Homo sapiens: one gene and its partners. The protein of the gene in region 3 interacts with the protein of the main gene of each other region in a pairwise test. Each region holds a gene or a part of one and is shown on either strand. Other genes may lie near its edges.

Region 1 (7,029 bases), on a different chromosome or scaffold from region 3:
ATCCAACAATATTTTAAATATTGTTACATATAGCCAATATTCATTCAGATTCACCATGTATCTACCATTTTCATTCCTCTTCATTCCTCCCTGTACAAACTTCAATCTAGATTTGTTTTTTCTCTACCTAAAGAATACCTTTTAGTATTTTCTATAATGCAGATCTGTTGATGGTGAATTCTTTTAATTACTGTTTGTCTGAACATGTCTCTATTTTGCCTTCATTCTGGAAGGATCTTTTTGCTCCATATAGAATTCGCCATTGACAATTCTTTTTCTTTAGCACTGTAAAGATATTCCATTGTCTCCATTGTCTACTGGCTTCCATTATTTTTGTTGAGATGTAAACTGTGAGTTCCATTGTTGCTTATTTGGAGATAATATGTATTTTGTTCTAGAGGCTTTTTTTTTTTAATGGAGTTTCTCTATTGTCGCCCAGTCTAGAGTGTGATGGAATGATCTTGGCTCACTGCAACGATCTTGGCTCACTGCAACGATCTTGGCTCACTGCAACCTCCGCCTCCCGGGTTCAAGTGATTCTCCTGCCTCAGCCCCCCGAGTAGCTGGGATTACAGGTTCCTGCCACCATGCCCAGCTAATTTTTGCATTTTTAGTAGAGATGGGGTTTCACCATGTTGGCCAGACTGGTCTCAAACTCCTGACCTCAGGTAATCCACCCACCTCGGCCTCCCAAAGTGCTGGGATTACAGGCAGGAGCCACCACACCCAGCCTGTTCTAGAGGCTTTTAACGATATTTTTTCCTGTTTAGTTTACAAGATGTCTTTGATTTATAGCAGTTTAATTCTCATCTGCCTCAGTGAGGATTTCTTTTTGTTTATTTTTCCTGTTTGGGGCTAGGCCTTCTTGAAACTGTCTTATTATCCTTCTTCAGTTTGGGAAAATTCTTAGCCATTACCTCCTCAAGTATTAACTTCTGCCCTATTATCTCCCTCTCTTCCTCCTCCTAGGATTCAAATTATGTGTCTGTTAGCCCCTCTCAATGTATCCTATGTGTCTCTTACCCTCTCCTCCATATTGACCATCTTTTTGTCTCTATGTTCACTCTGTGGAGTCTCTTCTAAAGCTCTAATTAGAGAATCCAGTTCCTGAATTCTTTCTTAATCCATGTCTATTCAACTGGAAAGCTCATTGCATTCTTGATTTCAGTGGTGTATATTTTAATTCTACAATTCTCATAGACCTTTTTTAATTAATTAATTATTATTATTATTATTATTTATTTTTTTTTTTTTTAGAGACAGAGTCTCACTCTGTTGTCCAGGCTGGAGTGCAGTCTTGTGATCATAGCTCACTGCAACCTCTAACTCCTGGGCTCAAGATCCTCCTGCCTCAGCCTCCTGAGTAGTTGGGACTACAGGCACGCATCACCACACTAGGCTATTTTTTTTTAAATTTCTGTAGAAACGGGGTCTCATTTTGTTGCCCAGACTGGTCTGAAACTCCTGGCCTCAAGTGATCCTCCCTGTCTCAGCCTCCCAAAGTACTGAGATTACAGGCATGAGCCACCATGCCTGGCTTCATGGATCTTTTAAAAACAGATTCTAGTTTCCTATCAAAATTCTCAAGCTGTCTTTAATCTTCTTAATTATTGTAAGCATAGTCTTTGTAAAGTCTATATGTATGACTCTATATGAGAAGCCCTGGTGCATCCTTTTTTAAGATCTGATATTTTGCTAGTGCTTATACAAGCTATCTGGTCTCCTCATGACCACCACCCCCCTTTTTTAAATTGAATGCTTTTATTTGCAAAATTGTGAAAGTAATTCAAGACCTTAATCCAGTTTTAGGGACTCAGATGAGTCAATCTGAGCTTCAGACCTTGAAAGGCCTGTTGGCTTGTGGTTCACTGTCTCCTCTAAGGGACAGTGCTTTGGGGTCACAACTCAAAAGAATGGGGCTCACCAGAGAACACCCTCCCTTGGTGTATCCTGAACTCCATTACCTGTTCCCTATGCTCTTAACACTATCAAAAGCCCACTTGGTTTCCCAACTGCTCCACTTTGGAATGTTCAAGTGCCTTCAGGAGAAAACAGGCCCCCAACACCAGCTTCACCTCTCTGGGCCATCATCTTTTCCTGATCCAACCCAGGAAGTGTGTGTGTGTGTGTGTGTGTGTGTGTGTGTGTGTGTGTGTGTGTGACGGAGTTTCACTCTGTCGCCCAGGCTGGAGTGAAGTGGCATGATCTCGGTTCACTGCAGCCTCCGCCTCCCGGGTTCAAGCGATTCTCTTGCCTCAGCCTCCTGAGTAGCTGGGATTATAGGCGCCTGCCACCACACCTGGCTAATTTTTGTATTTTTAGTAGGGACAGGGTTTCACCATGCTGGCCAGGCTGGTCTCAGAGTAAAGTGGCACGATCTTGGCTCACTGCAACCTTCGTCCCCCGGACTCAAACGATTCTCCTGCCTCAGCCTCCTGAGTAGCTGGGATTATAGGGGCCCACCACCACACCTGGCTAAGTTTTGTATTTTTAGTAGAGATGGGGTTTTGCCATGGTAGCCAGGCTGGTCTCAAACTCCTGACCTCAGGTGATCCACGCGCCTTGGCCTCCCAAAGTGCTGGGATTACAGGCATGAGCCACCGCGCCTGGCCTTTTTACTATCTTATTTGCTGTCCAGTACTATAAGAAAAAAAGTTTAAACATTTTGTCCAGAGTTTTTAAATTTATTTGTTTGCTTATATTTTTGTTCAGAGTTTTTAGTTGTCCTCAGAAGGAGGGTTGGTCCAAATTACCTAGTCTACTACATCTAGAAAGGACATTGGAAATTGACTTTTTTTTTTTTTTTTTGAGACGGAGTCTCACTCTGTGGCCCAGGCTGGATCGCCCAGTGGCACGATCTCGGCTCGCTGCAACATCTGCCTCCTGGGTTCAAGTGATTCTAGTGTTTCAGCCTCCCAAGTAGCTGGGATTACAGGTGCCCGCCACCACGCATGGCTAATTTTTTTTTTTTATTTTTAGTGGAGACGGGGTTTCCCCATGTTGGCCAGGCTGGTCTTGAACTCCTGACCTCAAATGATCCACCCACCTTGGTGTCCCAAAGTGCTGGGATTACAGGCATGAGCCACTGTGCCCAGCCACCAAGCATCCTTTTAGGGGCTGGGGACTCAGTGATAAACACACTGTGCCTGCTTCTTGGAACTCACAGTCTCACTCTGATCCATGTTTAGTCCTGTCCTGTATGATAATAGCAGTTGTCCATTGAGCTCATAAAATCTAAGACCGCGCTGGGCTTGTGAGCCACCTGCAGAGCCTAGCTTGGTGCTGAAAGCTAAGTGGGTGCTCTGTCATTACTGGGGTTCGATTGACTGGTTCTAACAGAGACCAGCTATAGAGCTAACACTTGATGGAATATTTTGAATATTGATGACCTTTTCACTGGCTTCTGCCTATGGCAAGTAGAGGTACAACCCAAAGAGAAGAGCCTCATTTATAGTGTGTGGCTGGGGGAGAGGGAGGTTTGCAAACTGAGTCATTTTCCCCCATTCAGCCTGTGTGTGTCTGTGTGAGTTCATACCTGTGTGTGTGCATAAAATCAAACAAGAATAAAATGTTTTCATTTGTTCCCTTCCTTCTTCCTCTCTCTGTCTCTCCCTGTTTCCACAGGTCAGCGTTGAAGTTTTGGTAGAGTATCCTTTTTTTGTGTTTGGACAGGGCTGGTCATCCTGCTGTCCGGAGAGAACCAGCCAGCTCTTTGATTTGCCGTGTTCCAAACTCTCAGTTGGGGATGTCTGCATCTCGCTTACCCTCAAGAACCTGAAGAACGGCTCTGTTAAAAAGGGCCAGCCCGTGGATCCCGCCAGCGTCCTGCTGAAGCACTCAAAGGCCGACGGCCTGGCGGGCAGCAGACACAGGTATGCCGAGCAGGAAAACGGAATCAACCAGGGGAGTGCCCAGATGCTCTCTGAGAATGGCGAACTGAAGTTTCCAGAGAAAATGGGATTGCCTGCAGCGCCCTTCCTCACCAAAATAGAACCCAGCAAGCCCGCGGCAACGAGGAAGAGGAGGTGGTCGGCGCCAGAGAGCCGCAAACTGGAGAAGTCAGAAGACGAACCACCTTTGACTCTTCCTAAGCCTTCTCTAATTCCTCAGGAGGTTAAGATTTGCATTGAAGGCCGGTCTAATGTAGGCAAGTAGAGGCAGCGTGGGGGAAAGGAAACGTGGCTCTCCCTTATCATTTGTATCCAGATTACTGTACTGTAGGCTAAAATAACACAGTATTTACATGTTATCTTCTTAATTTTAGGTTTCTGTTCTAACCTTGTCATTAGAGTTACAGCAGGTGTGTCGCAGGAGACTGGTGCATATGCTTTTTCCACGAGTGTCTGTCAGTGAGCGGGCGGGAGGAAGGGCACAGCAGGAGCGGTCAGGGCTCCAGGCATCCCCGGGGAAGAAAGGAACGGGGCTTCACAGTGCCTGCCTTCTCTAGCGGCACAGAAGCAGCCGGGGGCGCTGACTCCCGCTAGTGTCAGGAGAAAAGTCCCGTGGGAAGGGTCCTGCAGGGGTGCAGGGTTGCACGCATGTGGGGGTGCACAGGCGCTGTGGCGGCGAGTGAGGGTCTCTTTTTCTCTGCCTCCCTCTGCCTCACTCTCTTGCTATCGGCATGGGCCGGGGGGGTTCAGAGCAGTGTCCTCCTGGGGTTCCCACGTGCAAAATCAACATCAGGAACCCAGCTTCAGGGCATCGCGGAGACGCGTCAGATGGCAGATTTGGAAAGTTAACCATTTAAAAGAACATTTTTCTCTCCAACATATTTTACAATAAAAGCAACTTTTAATTGTATAGATATATATTTCCCCCTATGGGGCCTGACTGCACTGATATATATTTTTTTTAAAGAGCAACTGCCACATGCGGGATTTCATTTCTGCTTTTTACTAGTGCAGCGATGTCACCAGGGTGTTGTGGTGGACAGGGAAGCCCCTGCTGTCATGGCCCCACATGGGGTAAGGGGGGTTGGGGGTGGGGGAGAGGGAGAGAGCGAACACCCACGCTGGTTTCTGTGCAGTGTTAGGAAAACCAATCAGGTTATTGCATTGACTTCACTCCCAAGAGGTAGATGCAAACTGCCCTTCAGTGAGAGCAACAGAAGCTCTTCACGTTGAGTTTGCGAAATCTTTTTGTCTTTGAACTCTAGTACTGTTTATAGTTCATGACTATGGACAACTCGGGTGCCACTTTTTTTTTTTTTCAGATTCCAGTGTGACATGAGGAATTAGATTTTGAAGATGAGCATATATTACTATCTTTAAGCATTTAAAAATACTGTTCACACTTTATTACCAAGCATCTTGGTCTCTCATTCAACAAGTACTGTATCTCACTTTAAACTCTTTGGGGAAAAAACAAAAACAAAAAAAACTAAGTTGCTTTCTTTTTTTCAACACTGTAACTACATTTCAGCTCTGCAGAATTGCTGAAGAGCAAGATATTGAAAGTTTCAATGTGGTTTAAAGGGATGAATGTGAATTATGAACTAGTATGTGACAATAAATGACCACCAAGTACTACCTGACGGGAGGCACTTTTCACTTTGATGTCTGAGAATCAGTTCAAGGCATATGCAGAGTTGGCAGAGAAACTGAGAGAAAAGGGATGGAGAAGAGAATACTCATTTTTGTCCAGTGTTTTTCTTTTTAAGATGAACTTTTAAAGAACCTTGCGATTTGCACATATTGAGTTTATAACTTGTGTGATATTCCTGCAGTTTTTATCCAATAACATTGTGGGAAAGGTTTGGGGGACTGAACGAGCATAAATAAATGTAGCAAAATTTCTTTCTAACCTGCCTAAACTCTAGGCCATTTTATAAGGTTATGTTCCTTTGAAAATTCATTTTGGTCTTTTTACCACATCTGTCACAAAAAGCCAGGTCTTAGCGGGCTCTTAGAAACTCTGAGAATTTTCTTCAGATTCATTGAGAGAGTTTTCCATAAAGACATTTATATATGTGAGCAAGATTTTTTTTAAACAATTACTTTATTATTGTTGTTATTAATGTTATTTTCAGAATGGCTTTTTTTTTTCTATTCAAAATCAAATCGAGATTTAATGTTTGGTACAAACCCAGAAAGGGTATTTCATAGTTTTTAAACCTTTCATTCCCAGAGATCCGAAATATCATTTGTGGGTTTTGAATGCATCTTTAAAGTGCTTTAAAAAAAAGTTTTATAAGTAGGGAGAAATTTTTAAATATTCTTACTTGGATGGCTGCAACTAAACTGAACAAATACCTGACTTTTCTTTTACCCCATTGAAAATAGTACTTTCTTCGTTTCACAAATTAAAAAAAAAATCTGGTATCAACCCACATTTTGGCTGTCTAGTATTCATTTACATTTAGGGTTCACCAGGACTAATGATTTTTATAAACCGTTTTCTGGGGTGTACCAAAAACATTTGAATAGGTTTAGAATAGCTAGAATAGTTCCTTGACTTTCCTCGAATTTCATTACCCTCTCAGCATGCTTGCAGAGAGCTGGGTGGGCTCATTCTTGCAGTCATACTGCTTATTTAGTGCTGTATTTTTTAAACGTTTCTGTTCAGAGAACTTGCTTAATCTTCCATATATTCTGCTCAGGGCACTTGCAATTATTAGGTTTTGTTTTTCTTTTTGTTTTTTAGCCTTTGATGGTAAGAGGAATACGGGCTGCCACATAGACTTTGTTCTCATTAATATCACTATTTACAACTCATGTGGACTCAGAAAAACACACACCACCTTTTGGCTTACTTCGAGTATTGAATTGACTGGATCCACTAAACCAACACTAAGATGGGAAAACACACATGGTTTGGAGCAATAGGAACATCATCATAATTTTTGTGGTTCTATTTCAGGTATAGGAATTATAAAATAATTGGTTCTTTCTAAACACTTGTCCCATTTCATTCTCTTGCTTTTTTAGCATGTGCAATACTTTCTGTGCCAATAGAGTCTGACCAGTGTGCTATATAGTTAAAGCTCATTCCCTTTTGGCTTTTTCCTTGTTTGGTTGATCTTCCCCATTC
Region 2 (6,639 bases), on a different chromosome or scaffold from region 3:
GCAGAGTTGACCCTCATCTGAATTCAACCAACCTCAGGTTGAGAACATTCAGAGAAAAAAATTGCATCTGTACTGAACATGTAGATTTTTTCTTGTCATTACTCCCTAAATACAGTATGACACTTACATATCATTTATATTAGATATTATGAATAATAGAGATGATTTAAAGTATACAGGAGGATGTATGTTATATGCAAATACCACGATTTTTATCAGGGACTTGAGCGTCCATGAAATCTGGCACCTACAGGACATCCTGGAACTGCCCCCACATAGAAATTGAGTAGGCTGAAATTAAAAACAGGACATTTAACAAACCTCCAATGAATCTAGCAGGTGTAGAAATCGGGAACCAGCAGTAATACATGGGGACTTACATGGGAATCTAGCCTTTGGGTCAAGCACCCTAAGTTGCTTTTGCTCCACATGGGGAAGGAGAGGGTGTGGCCAAAGTACCAGCAAAATAAAACTTGAGTGATCTGGAACGTGAAAAATAAAAGACATCACGTGGAAGAGGTTTATTACAAATAAATGAAACAAAAATCAAAGGCTTGTGAAACATCTCTAAGTCTTCCTGTTCATTGACCAGTTTCTCAATCACAAAAAACAGGAACGTCTGTGAGGTTCAATTTTGGAAAGGGGGATTGGTTTAGTGGCTCTTCTGATACAACCACAGACCCCTCGGATAAGACTGTGGTCCAAAGAAGGCTGCTGTATGTTCTCTGTAGGCTAGACTCAGTCCTTGTAAATAAACTCAGTTTAAAGCTTTCAATACTCAACTGCATAGTTCCATATAAACATGAAAATTAGGAAGATTGCTATTAGCACACATTCCTAAATCCACAGGAGTTATTTAGCAAAACATCCAATGCATGAATGTAGAGAAAACACAATGACCCAAAAGTTAAGACTGGTGAATCTCCAGGTTCACATGAGACGGTAACCCAAATTCATCACTTAACCAAATTTAGACAAGAGTCACCATTTCCTAATTCTAGGAAATCTGACTAGTTAAGGTGGCATAACTAGTGATAAAGTTCATCATGAGCTTTATCATCACAATGCTAAGAAACATTATTTTAGAAAATCTAGAGAATCATTAACAAGCAAATAACAGAGTAGGGGATGAGCTGGGCCACTCTGGGGTCAGACTGCCTGGGATTGACCTGGCCCTACTACTTGCTGGTGGTGAGATGCTGGCCAATTATGAGTACTCACCTGTAAGATGTGAGCAGTAAGAAAGTGTATCTGCCTCACTGGGTTGTCAGAACAGACAATCCCGGTAGAGTTCTCGGAGCGTCTTGGCCCATCACTGTTAGCTAGTTAATACTTTAGTAAGTACAATTAATTTCAGTCACTCTATCTGAACATGGTAACTGCAAGATTTCTCCCTTATTTCCTGTAATTTACTTTAACCTCCACTTCACTGTGTCCCTCTGATAGGGAAACAAGTGGGTTCTGAACTGCCCTAAGCCTGTGCTGGTGGCCAGCTCTGCACATGCTGGTCCTGATTCTGTGTATGAGCTGTGTTCAGGGTGGGGCCGGGGCCAGAGGAAAGCAAAGGCTCACATGGGTCTCCATCAGCCCTAAACAACACGCCAGGTTAGGCTGTGAGCAACCTAGTAACAGCACTTAAGGCATCCCATAATTCTGTGGTGGACCCTCTACAATCAAATGGCCCACCCATTTAGATAGGAAGAGGATCAAGCCCATATTCCTCTCAATATGAAAGTGCATCTTGAGAGCTCCTGTTTAAGCTGTTAAAATAGTCCCTACAGCTTATTTTGAGAAAAAAAAATCCACCCAAACCCCTTCAATTAAGGCAGCATTTAATTACTGTTACAATAAACGTTTCTTAAACCCGAAGAGAAGATAAAGGTTGTTTAAACAGATTCTTTTAATACAATGAATACAAAAGCAGTTGAGATGGTACCCCCACGATTACACAGCTTTGAACAAGTGAAACTATGGTTACCAAACAGCTATTTTTATTATAGCATCTACAGTGTCTGGAAAAGGATGTAACAATAAATAACTGTAGATGCATCACGAGACATCCATTTACTTAATCACAGAAGTGGATCTTGCTACATAGTTTTCTCAATGTCTTCATTCTTCAGATTCTCCAGGCTTACGAATGTCATCAATCTTCAAAATCATTCTAACCATTTGTGTTGCAAGAGATATCTGTTGCTTTTTGCCAATCAAGGTTTCTATGACATGCTGTTGCTTCATATCTGAAAAATACAAGGACACTGATTATCCTAAAATAGCATACAATAAACTATCAATAACCAACTCTTTCTGATTTAGGGAATCACAGTAAGACTTAAGAAATACAAACTCCTGGAAGCCAAGCAGGAAGCCACTAATTTCAGTTATATTTCATTTTCAGATGAATGTAATTTCATTACTTCCAAGGACACTCTGGAACTCGCACCTGGTAAAGAGAGCTGTTGGGAGGGCACTGTCTTCAATGACTAGCTACAGGGTGACATTTTTCAGGAACATCTTATCCCACAAAGTATCCATACCCTAACTTAGGAAATCTAAAGTAAGTCCATCTGACCACAGCTGAAATGTAAGATATTTCCAAGAAAGATCTAGAAATGCTAATTTTTTTTTTGGAGACAGGTGTCACCCAGGCTGGAATACAACAGTGCGATCTCAGCTCACTGGAACCTCTGCGTCCCGGGTTCAAGCGATTCTCCTGCCTCAGCCTCCCGAGTAGCTGGGATTACAGGTGCCTGCCCTGACCAGGCCTGGCTAATTTTGTATTTTTTGTAGAGATGGTGTTTCACCATGTTGGTCAGGCTGGTGTCAAACTCCTGACCTCAGGTGATCCACCCGGCTTGGCCTCCTAAAGTGCTGGGATTACAGACATGAGTCACTGCGCCCGGCCCTAGAAATGCTAAATTTGAGCACAACCAGGCATTCAAGTTAGAAACATTAAATGTTTGCCTCACAAAGAGTTGCTACTATTGAAACCCTTGGAATTTGAGCATGGAAAGCAGAATGTACCTATACCTTTAAGCAAAAGCTGTCATTCTGTGGATGGATTACAGACATGGCCTGATTTAGTACAGAAATGCCTGAGACCACTGTTTCAACAAGCTACAGCCACCATATCTTTTTGGGAGCCGAGCTACACAAGTGGCTACAGAGGTTATATATTACATTTAGAAAACACTCCACAGTGTGCAGGATTAACCACACAGTGAACTGTGAACTAAAGCCCACTTCAGAGCTGTTATATATATGCTGCCCACTGACAGACATCTGTGTAAAAACAGCAATAAGGCATTACTTCCCAAAAACCAGAGATTAAAACCTAAGTCATCTTTGGTGATAGTACCATATGCACTTTACTGTTATTACAATGAGTCTCATGTTGCTAGGTCTAGTAGTCTAACCAATTCCTACGGCAATCAAACATTCTAAAATTCAGGACTTGAACACCTGAAGTGGGCTTACATATTTAAAAAGACACCATCATCTCACAGCACATACAGTGGATGATTATTCAGTTTAAATCAGACATCCCCCCCCCTCCACGCAGAGGCGTGACAGCTCCTCACCATTTGTCCCCTTGTGCAAACAGTCGATGCCAAGAGCAGGGTTCATCTCCTTCACCTGTCTGGCTCGGACTTCGGTCATAGTCTGGATGGGATTCATGCCACTGTTTTCAGAGAGGGCCATGGGGATGACCTCCAGTGCGTCGGCAAACGCTCTCATGGCATACTGTTCTAAGGTGGGGCACTGGAAAGGTACAGAAGTATGGTGAGTGCACTTGGCGAAACAAAACAACCCAGCGGCACCGTGAAAACACAACTGTATCACATACTTTGAAAAGTCAGCTCACAAAGAATTGTAAGAACAGGCTGTCTTTATTTTTGTATCTATCAGAATATTATAATGTCACCACAGAATACAGGCAGAGGGTATACATACATGTGAGAGATGTCTCAAAATACAGCAGCTCTTATGGCTTTATTTTTAAGTTATAATATTAATTTTGAATTTCAAATAACATTAAAAGACTATAGATTTATTATTTCAAGGACGAACTGGCTGAAAACAGCTGAGAAATGCTAGGTTATGGTAACCAGAATCTGAATACAGGAACGTGGGAATTAACTTAGATTAAAACACCTGTCACCTACACACAGCTCACGATGCTTGTTTTGCATCCAGCACCTCGCTGTTCCGCAGCTTCACAGTCTCCACCATCAGCGAGGCCTGAATCTTTCACTAAGTCTGCACAGATCCCTTACCTTATCCGCCTCTTGGCTAACTGCCAGGGCACAGGATATCTCAGCAGCCCCTCCTCCATACACCACACGATTATCGCGGATGAGGTTCCGGATGACACACAAAGCATCGTGAAGGGATCGTTTCGCCTCCTCAATGATCTAAGGAAAACAGCTTTGCCTGAATTAATGTGATCAAGATCTAGTCAATTTAGAGCCAAGTATCTGGCACCTTTTTAAAGACAGAGAGGCTGTGCTCTAATATTTAGATGGCCTCCACTATCGGATAATATTTATCTTTCTAGCTTTCCTTCCTGCAATGTAGTTAACAAAATTCAAGAGGCAGAGGCGGCCAGTGACTCATTCTAGGATACACGGTCAAGCAAGAGTCAAAAACTGACAAAACTCGCAAAGATTTATCACAATGTGCTAAAAACTCATTCTCAAAGAACAGAGATCGTCAATGGTTATTCACTTGGGTTCCCTTTTTCTACCTAAGGGACAGATGTAAGTCATCCTTGGTAATAATACCATATTGTAATTAAAATGAGTCTTATGTTGCTAGGGCTAGCAGTTTAACCAACCCCTAATGTAACTGTATCAAACATTCTAAAATCCAGGACTTGAATATTTAAACTGTGTTTAAGTATTTAAAAAGATATAAAAATCTCATAGTGTATATTGTATACTCTAAGGGACAGCAGAAAGGCAAATGTGCCTTGTGAAATTAACAATTTAACATGGTCTTCAGTAATTTTACACCATGATACGTCATTGTTTGAGAACCACGATTATTTTTCTTATGGTGACTGTGTCTCTGTTAAATACACACAGGCAAAAAAGCCAGACCATGAAGCAAAATAAGCAACAGTATAGGACAAATAGTTGAATTCTCACCATCTTATTTCCTCCTCTAATAAAAATGGTTACAGCTCTGGAGTTCTTACACTGCTCGATGACCAGCATTTTATCCTTAGTTGTCCCAAATGAGATCTCCTGTACAAGACCAGCAAAGCCCAGCTTCTCGGCTGTGAGCTCTGAGAACCTGGGGACGATCCGCCCTCCTGTTGCGATGGCAATCAGCTAATTGGGGTGGTCAGGGAGAAGGATGAAGACAGTACTGGTGAAGTTAACTTTCAAAACTGGGCCACAAATGAGCAAAACTTGATCTAAGACCAACTTGTTCACTAGAACTGCTGCCCCACTTTGACCGAGACATCTCCAGTTCAACCCAAAGCACCTTGCTAGGTAACAAGGCTCTTGAGCTGGACGTCTTGATTGGGGCTTTGGTGCTGCCCAGATCTATCACCCGGCGCCCGTCCCCTAAGCTCATACCCTCATCTCCCATCTGTGCAGCCCTCCCTCACTCTGGGAACCCAGCCTGCATGTTCCTTGCACTGCGCTGCAGTGAGAACCACCGAGGCACCGTTGCCTGGGACTGCCATTAGTATTTGGATGAGACCAGGTCTTCCAGCCTTAGTAAGTCAACGACAGGGCCAAGTGAGACAACACAGGGAGAGAATTTCAAAATGCCAGGGAACACCAGAAACACACAGCACTGTTATCCAAACAGTAACAAAGATTCCAGCGCTTTCCTCTCTCCCAGCTCACCCTCCCCTCATCTGCCAGCCTTGGTGTGATGCAGTTATTTAAGGCAGGGCTATCAAAACACCCCTCAACACATAAGATGAACCCCTACTTCTCAAAGTCTCTTCACGTGGAACATCCTACCTCAATTTCAGGTCCTCCTACCCAGCGAACCGCAGGCAAGTTGTTCTGAAGAAGTAAGTGATTTGCTTCATCATCAAAGCCCCACTGACAAATTGCTAGGTTAGCACCAGTCTCTTTAATCTGGGAAAAGAACCACCACAATCGTATTAAGAGAAAGTGGGTATTTATTCTTCATTACAATGTTTGAAAAAAGGAGAGGCACAGTTGGGTGTAAGGCAGGTGCACTCAAACACAAAAGCAAAGGAAAGAGAAGGAAGGAAATAGACAAGTGTCCACTTTTCTGTCAGTTCCAAATTCTAAATAGTGAATATTTTATCAATGGGGATCACCTCATTGTTTATGCTTTAAAAACCACAAGCAGTAATTCTGCTGAACCCTATTGTTACAGTGAGGCAAAACCCACAGAAACGTCAACAAAGCTAACACCCTTCCCCAACCATGGGGAAATGGCTAACAGCTCTGTCCTGTCACAAACACCTACAGAGTAGTTTCACCTGAGTATGTTTTAAACAAACAATGTTATGAACCACTTGCAACTTGACTGTCTCACCTGAGTGGACAATCCTCAGTGGATCCATAAACTAATTCGGGCACTCACAGAGGCAACCCTGCTTCCAGTAAGAAGCACCCTCACCCCGACCTGCAAATGGCAAAG
Region 3 (7,029 bases):
TTATGACTAAAAAAGCCAATAGTTTATAATGCCTTCATTTTTTAGAGGAAAAGATTCAGCTTAAGAATATTTTATATTTTTACCACAGTTTATTTAGAAATATTTCTAAACTCATTTAGCAAACTTGTTTAGAAACGTACTTTGAAATAGCAGCATTTTACCTTTTTGTTGCACTTAGTTTTCGTAACTAAGAGGAAATCATTGAAGAGAAACAGATAAACATCTAGGAATCTCGTGCTTTCTGAGGAAAAAAAGAGAAGCTGAAATGGGGACCTGAAACTGTTAAGTAGAAGAGTTTTTCTTTCCCTTTCTTTCTTTCTTTCTTTCTTTCTTTCTTTCTTTCTTTCTTTCTTTCTTTCTTTCTTTCTTCTTTCTTTCTTTCTTTTTCTTTCTTTCTTTTCATTCTCTCTTTCCTTCCTTCCTTCCTTCCTTCTTTCTTTCTTTCTCTCTTTTTTTTAATCAATGAATTCCTTAGAAAACAAAACTGGGTGAGTATTACGGCACCCCAGGGGCTCCAATCATGTAGGTCAGAAAGCTGCCTGCCTCAATGTTGAATTGATTTCTTCCTAAAGCAGAGACTTGATGAGAGGCCAAGCTTCCAACATTAAAGACATTGAATTTATGATGCGTCTCATTTGAATCTAAGATAACTCAGATGTTATTTGTAGTGGCTTCAACTCAGCCGAGGGTAAATCTATCAACTGATTGAACTTGCAGCATTTTTGCCTCTAGATTCCTCTGGGTGGTTATTGGCAAAGGCACACATAACCAGAGAAAAGGCATTTTCTCACTGCTATGAATTATGCTATTGTGTCACTCAAATTTCATATGTTGAAGCCCTAAACCACTAGGGTGGCTGCATTTGGAGTAAGAAAGTAATTAGGGTAAAATGAAGTGATAAGGCTGGTGCACTGATCCAGTAGCATTAGTGTTCTTTGAGACACCGGATACCTCCACCCTATCCCCCACTCCTTGTCTTGAAGAGAGCGCTCATCAGGAACTGAATTTGCCATCACCTTGGCCTGGGACTTTTCAGCCTCCAGATTGTAAGACATAAATTTCTGCTGTTTAAGTCAGCCTGTCTGTGATATTTTGTTATGGCGGCCTAGGTTGACAGTCATTAAAACTACTTATTTCTCAAGTTTTAGAAAGTGTCTATAAATGTTTAGATATTCTCCATCTGTTTCATATTTACAAACTTTTCTGATATTAGTTTTAATAGTTACTTAAGGCAAATAGCTTTTCTTTAGTTTTCCCTAAGAAGGGAATAGTAGTAGAAGAGAAACCAAGTATCAGAATAAGGCATCTCCTTCCTTATTTTACTCTATCCCTTAGAAATTAGAAAAAAGGGTTAAATTTAAGTGATTTCAGAGGAAAAGGTTTTTAGAGGGAGATGTGACAAGTGCTTAGAGTAATCATAGGAAAACCCAGTAAATTTTTTTCAGCTTGTTCTATTTAGATTATATATATATATTGTTCTAGAAGTTCTTTCTTATATGTTTTTACCCCTAGAAGATTTAAAGTAGTAGCTAAAACATTTAGGATTCATTTCTATCTCCTCTCATTCTTTAAGTTTAGAGAAAAGATTTTTTCTATATTTGCATAGGGGAGAAATCTGGTATTTTATTCAAATTAAATAGTCCTTGAATAGTTTTTTTAAAAATCATATTAAAAACTTAACTTTTCATAAATCAAGTTGTGGCAAAGACTTCTGGTTGTCCCTTGAAAACCATTCTCCCCTTCTCTTGTAGCAGTAGAATCCCCAAGTTTTAGTGAGTACCCATCCTCAGAGAACAGAGACTACATTTCCTTGCTGCTGAATATGACCAAGGAGCTAAATTCTGACCAATGGAATGTGAGCCAAAGCATGCAACTTCTGAGTCATATTCGTGAAGGGCAGGGCTAAGCTCTCTTGTCTCTGTCTCTCCTTCTCACTGGGTAGAATACAGACATATTGGTGAGTCATCTTGGGCCACACAGAAGAAGGCAGTTCCCTAGATTTGGGAATAAGACAGCAGGAATCTGGATTCCTAATGACTTCATGGAGTGGAGTTGTCATATAGGTTGAGACTTAACAAGAGAGAAATAAACTATCTTTTTTAACCTGTCCGTCTCCAGTGGCTGAATCTATATGCCAACTGATATACAGGGCTAGGAATGGTACAGCACTAGACCTGTGAACAGCCAGCTGAGCCTGCCATAGCAAAATACCACAGACAGGGTGGCTTAAGCAATAGGAATTTATTTCTCACAGTTCTGGAGCCTGGGAAGTAGATCAAGGTGCTGGTCGATTCAGTTCCTGATAAGGGCTTTCTTTTTGGGTTTCTGCATGTGTTCTTACATGGCAAACAGAGAGAGTGAGCTCTCTGATGTCTGCTCTGATTAGGATACTAATCCTATCAGATCAAGGCTCCAGCCTGAGTCCCTCATTTTACCTGCATTTCTTCCTTATTCCAAGTATAGTCATACTGGACATTAAGGCTTCAACATGTGATTTGTGGAAGAACACAATTCAGTCCACAGCAATGGAAGAACACAATTCAGTCCACAGCAACCTTCAAACCTGTAAAATTTGCTATTCCCATCTTCTGCTACTCATGTATGCGTCAGCTCAATGATCATTGTCAAAATGAAATAGTTTTGTTTTCTCCTTCTAATTTCAACTATTTTATTTTGACAAACAGGCAGGGAGCACACCTTCTACGTATTCCAGATGTTATTCTAGATAATGTTACAGACATTATTCTAGAAAGTGGTAATTATTTTATCTACCATTTATTGAGGCCCTAGTTTTCCACCAAGTAAGTTATGAAACAAATTATGAAAATGTGTACCTTCTGGGAATGAGAACATATACTTATTTGATTATAAGAGTACAGTTTTTAAGGCTGGGAGAAATTTGGAAACACAGTATGTGTTAGGTTTCATCACATCATTTTCATCCTCATTGTCATCATCATTATCAGCAGCAGCAATAACATTTATAAAAGAGAATAAGAGAATTTAAATTTTCCCAAAGCCTACAATTGGTGCTAGATCCCCTGACTGTTGGTTCAATGCTTTTTTCATTTAAAATGATGTCCTGTTTCCTCACTTGATCTTAGCCAAAAGACCAAGAAGTGAAATGTCCTGTTTCTTCTAACACTATCACCCTGCCCCATCAAATCTCGATGCTCAACTCTGAGTCCAGTCTCAGGACTTTGCACTTGGCTTGATGCCATGTAGACTACATCATATGGAGTCTCCATCTCTGATGGAATTTGACTAATACAGCATATGCCATTAAACAAGTGCCTGGTGTTAGTGACATTATGTAGTTCATGTCCATACTACCACATTTGACTGTACAAGAAGCATTTTCTGGAAAAGTTGAGTCTGTTTGTAAAGAGTCTTTCTTAGGTGAGCTTCCAACCCATACATCTATGACAGTCACTTTGAACCCATGCGATGCATGAATTCACATCTGACTTAGACTTTCACCCACCAGGAGCTGCTCCTCCAGCTTCCATGTGGGTTCTCATTATGCCCAAACCTGAACCCTAAAATTGACTCCTTGACCCACTCCCTCTACCACTCATGGCATTATCAACAAAACTTTCAGATACATAGATTAGAACAGTTTTTGATACTCATTTCCTCTTCATCCACTTTGTCGATCATAAAATCCTCCTGGTTTTGCCTTTGCAATGTCTCCCATATCCTTTTCTATCATGCCCATTTCTAATGTGTTAGGAGAAGCTGGTGCATCTTGCAGTATTGGGAGGTAGGTAGGAAGAGGGAAGGAGTGAACCAAAGCCTCACATAATTTCAGGTGGGGCTAATTTTGGAGGTAAAGATACATGCTGGAACACAGATAATGTTTTGCTTTATTACTTTGATTTGTTCTTGTCATAAAATATAATTACTTTGAAGTTGTAAATAACATTAAAGAAAAGTTAAAATTGTTATGTTTTCAAATGAAAGTGGGGGGTGGGTTGACCACATGTTAAAAATGGTAGAGCAACAGACAGGCCCCGAGTCTTCTCACCTCACCGTGTTCACCACTGAACTTCCGGTTTCACCACTCTGCTTTGGTCTCCTCTATGCCATTTTGAACACTGCTTATTAACAACGCTTTCTTCAACACCCTTTTAACCTATCACTTCCCTGTCTGAGAGCTCAATGACTTCTGGTTGCCTGCAGTTTCCTGGCTGGGTCCTTCTGTTTGGTTTCCAAGGCAGTTGCTCTGATTCTGGAAGCCAGCTGGACCAAGGCAGCCAGGCTCCAGCTGGTACTCGGTCATTTACCCACCAGGTGAACTTGGGCATGATACAGAACCTCCCTGAGCCCCAAATCTCTCACCTATAACAAGGGATTAAAAGCAACTTCTCTATTTAACTTACTGGAAAGAGACAATGTATGAAAAAGCCCTTGGATATAAAACGCTGGATATGTCTATCTTCCTTATTTAACAGCTGCCAGGTGGGGATTATGTCCTAACCTGACATCCAGACTACCTCTAAAATAGAGCAGAGTTTCAATATACATGTATTAAGGGATTATTTCCCAGCCCCTCCCCACCAGATATCACATCACCACTGTTAGGCAACATCCCATCCCACAGGACTTCACACTCAGTAAGTGCCTGGTCAAGATTTTGTGCAGAAATGAATAAATAAATGATTTAAAACCTTATTTCAGCCAGGCAGCCTTTCTGATCATCATGATATTTATTGGGCATGAAATTTGTGTCAATCATTCTTTTGAGTGCTTACACATCCGTTGGTTCATTTAATCCTCACAATAAAGTAAGGTAAACTGAAGCACAGGAGATCACTGTAAATGGCCCAAGGTTGTACAGGCAGAAAAGGCTGAGCAGGGAGTGAGCCAGGCAGTCAGCCCCAGGGGCTTGGCTTCCTATGTACTCTGCTAGAAACTAAGTTTCTCCAGGGGCTTCTGCCTCCAAGACTTCTCCAGCTGTGCTATTTATCTGAATGACCTCCCTCCTGTCCTTCCACTGACCTCATCCTTCCTGCCCCTCCAAGCCCACCTCCAGTCCCATGGACTGCACGAAGCCTCTCCAGGGCACTGCAGCCTCAAGGACTCTCTTCTTTTCTGAACTTATCCTGAAGGTCTGGTAATAAGGCAGAGCTTCCCAACTAGAGGGAAAGAATTATACAGAATGAGTTTTTATATCTTCCAATAGTACCTACCTAGCACAACTTGTCCTATATAATATAATAGAGTCTCCATAAACATTTGAGAGCTTGATTGTCTGGCTCATTGGGGGAGTACAACGATTATGATGATAACAGCTGCCATTGACTATTTACTAGATTCCAGACCGTGAGCGAAGTTGTTCTTGTATGTTGTTTTAACAATCCTATGGAATAGTTAGAGTTATCCCATTACAGAGAGAAAACAGAGAGCACCTAGCTAGTTATGTTGCGAAGTCTTCATTCAAGCCTGAGTCTGTGTGACTCCATAGGGACTCTCTCATTCACACCCTCCATCACCTGGAACATAGGCAAACACAAGTCCTCCTGCTCTTCAATTACTGGCAGTCAAACAAGTTACAAGGCGGCACAGATGTTGGGTTTTTTAAAGGAAGCAGTTATTTACCTGCAAGAGTTAATTTTCCTTCATAGAGAAGGTGTCTGCTGGTTGGTGACAAGATGTTTTCTGCCATGTGTTCTTTAAAAATGTGTTTCAAACACTTGTAAAACAAGCGAGAAAATAAAAGAGATGTTGTTAGTGATTGGAAGAGAACATGTTTAAAAAGCTGGGGCAATTAACTCCATCTAGAAAGTTCATGACATTTGGAAATGCCAGCAGATGGACATGGGAATGGGAAACAATGAAAAACCCTCTCAGAAGGACCATCATAAGAATGGCACAGCGACCTCAGCCTCCCCGCATACAATGCCCTACAGATGAAGACTTTACTTCTTGTTCATGAAACTAGATTTATTCTTCAAGTGGACAGATGGGGACATCTAAGATGATTGTATTTCTATCTGAATGCCCAAATTCCAGAAATGGACATAAGTCCTAATTGATTTTTTTTTTGTACCTCTGGAATGAAAAACCTTTTATCTCTATCCCAAAGCGGTGGCCACACTATAATCTCCTGTAGATATCTAAATTTTTGGAAATTGTCCAGCCACTTCACTTTTCCTTCAAGGTCCCCTGAAAGACATGACATAGTCAGTATATTTTTAGGTGCATATGACATTGCAGTATAAATTTTAACCAAGGTCCACAGGAATCATTTAGAAACACTGGCTGCCCCTGGAGCCAGACAATATATAAAGTTCATTTCACATATTGCTTGCTGTTCATGCGTCTTAGAAAACTCACTAATTTGGAATCAGTCTCTTGCAGAGAAAAATCAAGCTTAGCTAATTTAATTCAGTAGTTTGAAAGTATATTGTGTATTCTTATTTCAATAATACCAATAAAATCCTTGGTAGTTTTCTCTTATTCCCTAGACCACACAGCCTATAATTAGAGGAGGAAAAAAAAAATCAGACTAACAAGGACAAACATATGTTTTTGTCCCAATCATAAAAGTATATATTCACTTCATGATCATGGTGATTATTTCTTTTTTGGTAGGAACTCAATTTCTCTTTGGAAGGTTTATATTCATTTTCCAATGTTTTCTAATAACATGTTGCTATTGAGGGTTTGAAATGTTTTTTGAAAACATGGAGGGCAAGTAAGAGACCTGAAGAATCACATTGTTAGTGGAACCTTCAGAATTCACCATCTTTAAGGTAATAGACATAAAGGGAGGCCACACAAATCTCTTCCCTCAACAATGAGAATCCATCTTTCACTGAGAAATCTCCAGAGGTGCTGCTTTATCTTTCCTCACAAACCCATCCAAATGAGTAATAATCCTTAAGATTACTTCTAAAGCTAAAGAAGTCATCTTTAAGAGATTCTTTGTCTTACTTGCTTGATAAACTTAATTCCAGCTCTTCAGATAATTTTAGAATTTGAATAAAAAATTTAAAAACAGAAGAAAAACCCAATTAAACAGTC

Evidence for each region. The genes of interacting proteins can lie anywhere in the genome.
Region 1: the proteins of PLEKHG7 (region 3) and ATXN1 interact in binary tests that used the Homo sapiens proteins (3 or more experiments, as listed by UniProt).
Region 2: the proteins of PLEKHG7 (region 3) and CCT5 interact in binary tests that used the Homo sapiens proteins (3 or more experiments, as listed by UniProt).

The regions. Positions count from the first base shown.
Region 1 is NC_000006.12:16,303,455-16,310,483, reverse strand, and holds part of ATXN1 (ataxin-1), read left to right. Parts: intron 1-3,624; coding exon 3,625-4,155; 3' UTR 4,156-7,029. UniProt on the Homo sapiens protein: Chromatin-binding factor that repress Notch signaling in the absence of Notch intracellular domain by acting as a CBF1 corepressor. Binds to the HEY promoter and might assist, along with NCOR2, RBPJ-mediated repression. Binds RNA in vitro.
Region 2 is NC_000005.10:10,260,257-10,266,895, reverse strand, and holds the end of CCT5 (T-complex protein 1 subunit epsilon), read right to left. Parts: intron 6,105-6,639; coding exon 5,985-6,104; intron 5,337-5,984; coding exon 5,151-5,336; intron 4,416-5,150; coding exon 4,278-4,415; intron 3,763-4,277; coding exon 3,582-3,762; intron 2,241-3,581; coding exon 2,113-2,240; 3' UTR 507-2,112; downstream 1-506. UniProt on the Homo sapiens protein: Component of the chaperonin-containing T-complex (TRiC), a molecular chaperone complex that assists the folding of actin, tubulin and other proteins upon ATP hydrolysis.
Region 3 is NC_000012.12:92,754,964-92,761,992, reverse strand, and holds part of PLEKHG7 (pleckstrin homology domain-containing family G member 7), read right to left. Parts: intron 6,169-7,029; coding exon 6,053-6,168; intron 5,696-6,052; coding exon 5,602-5,695; intron 242-5,601; coding exon 162-241; intron 1-161.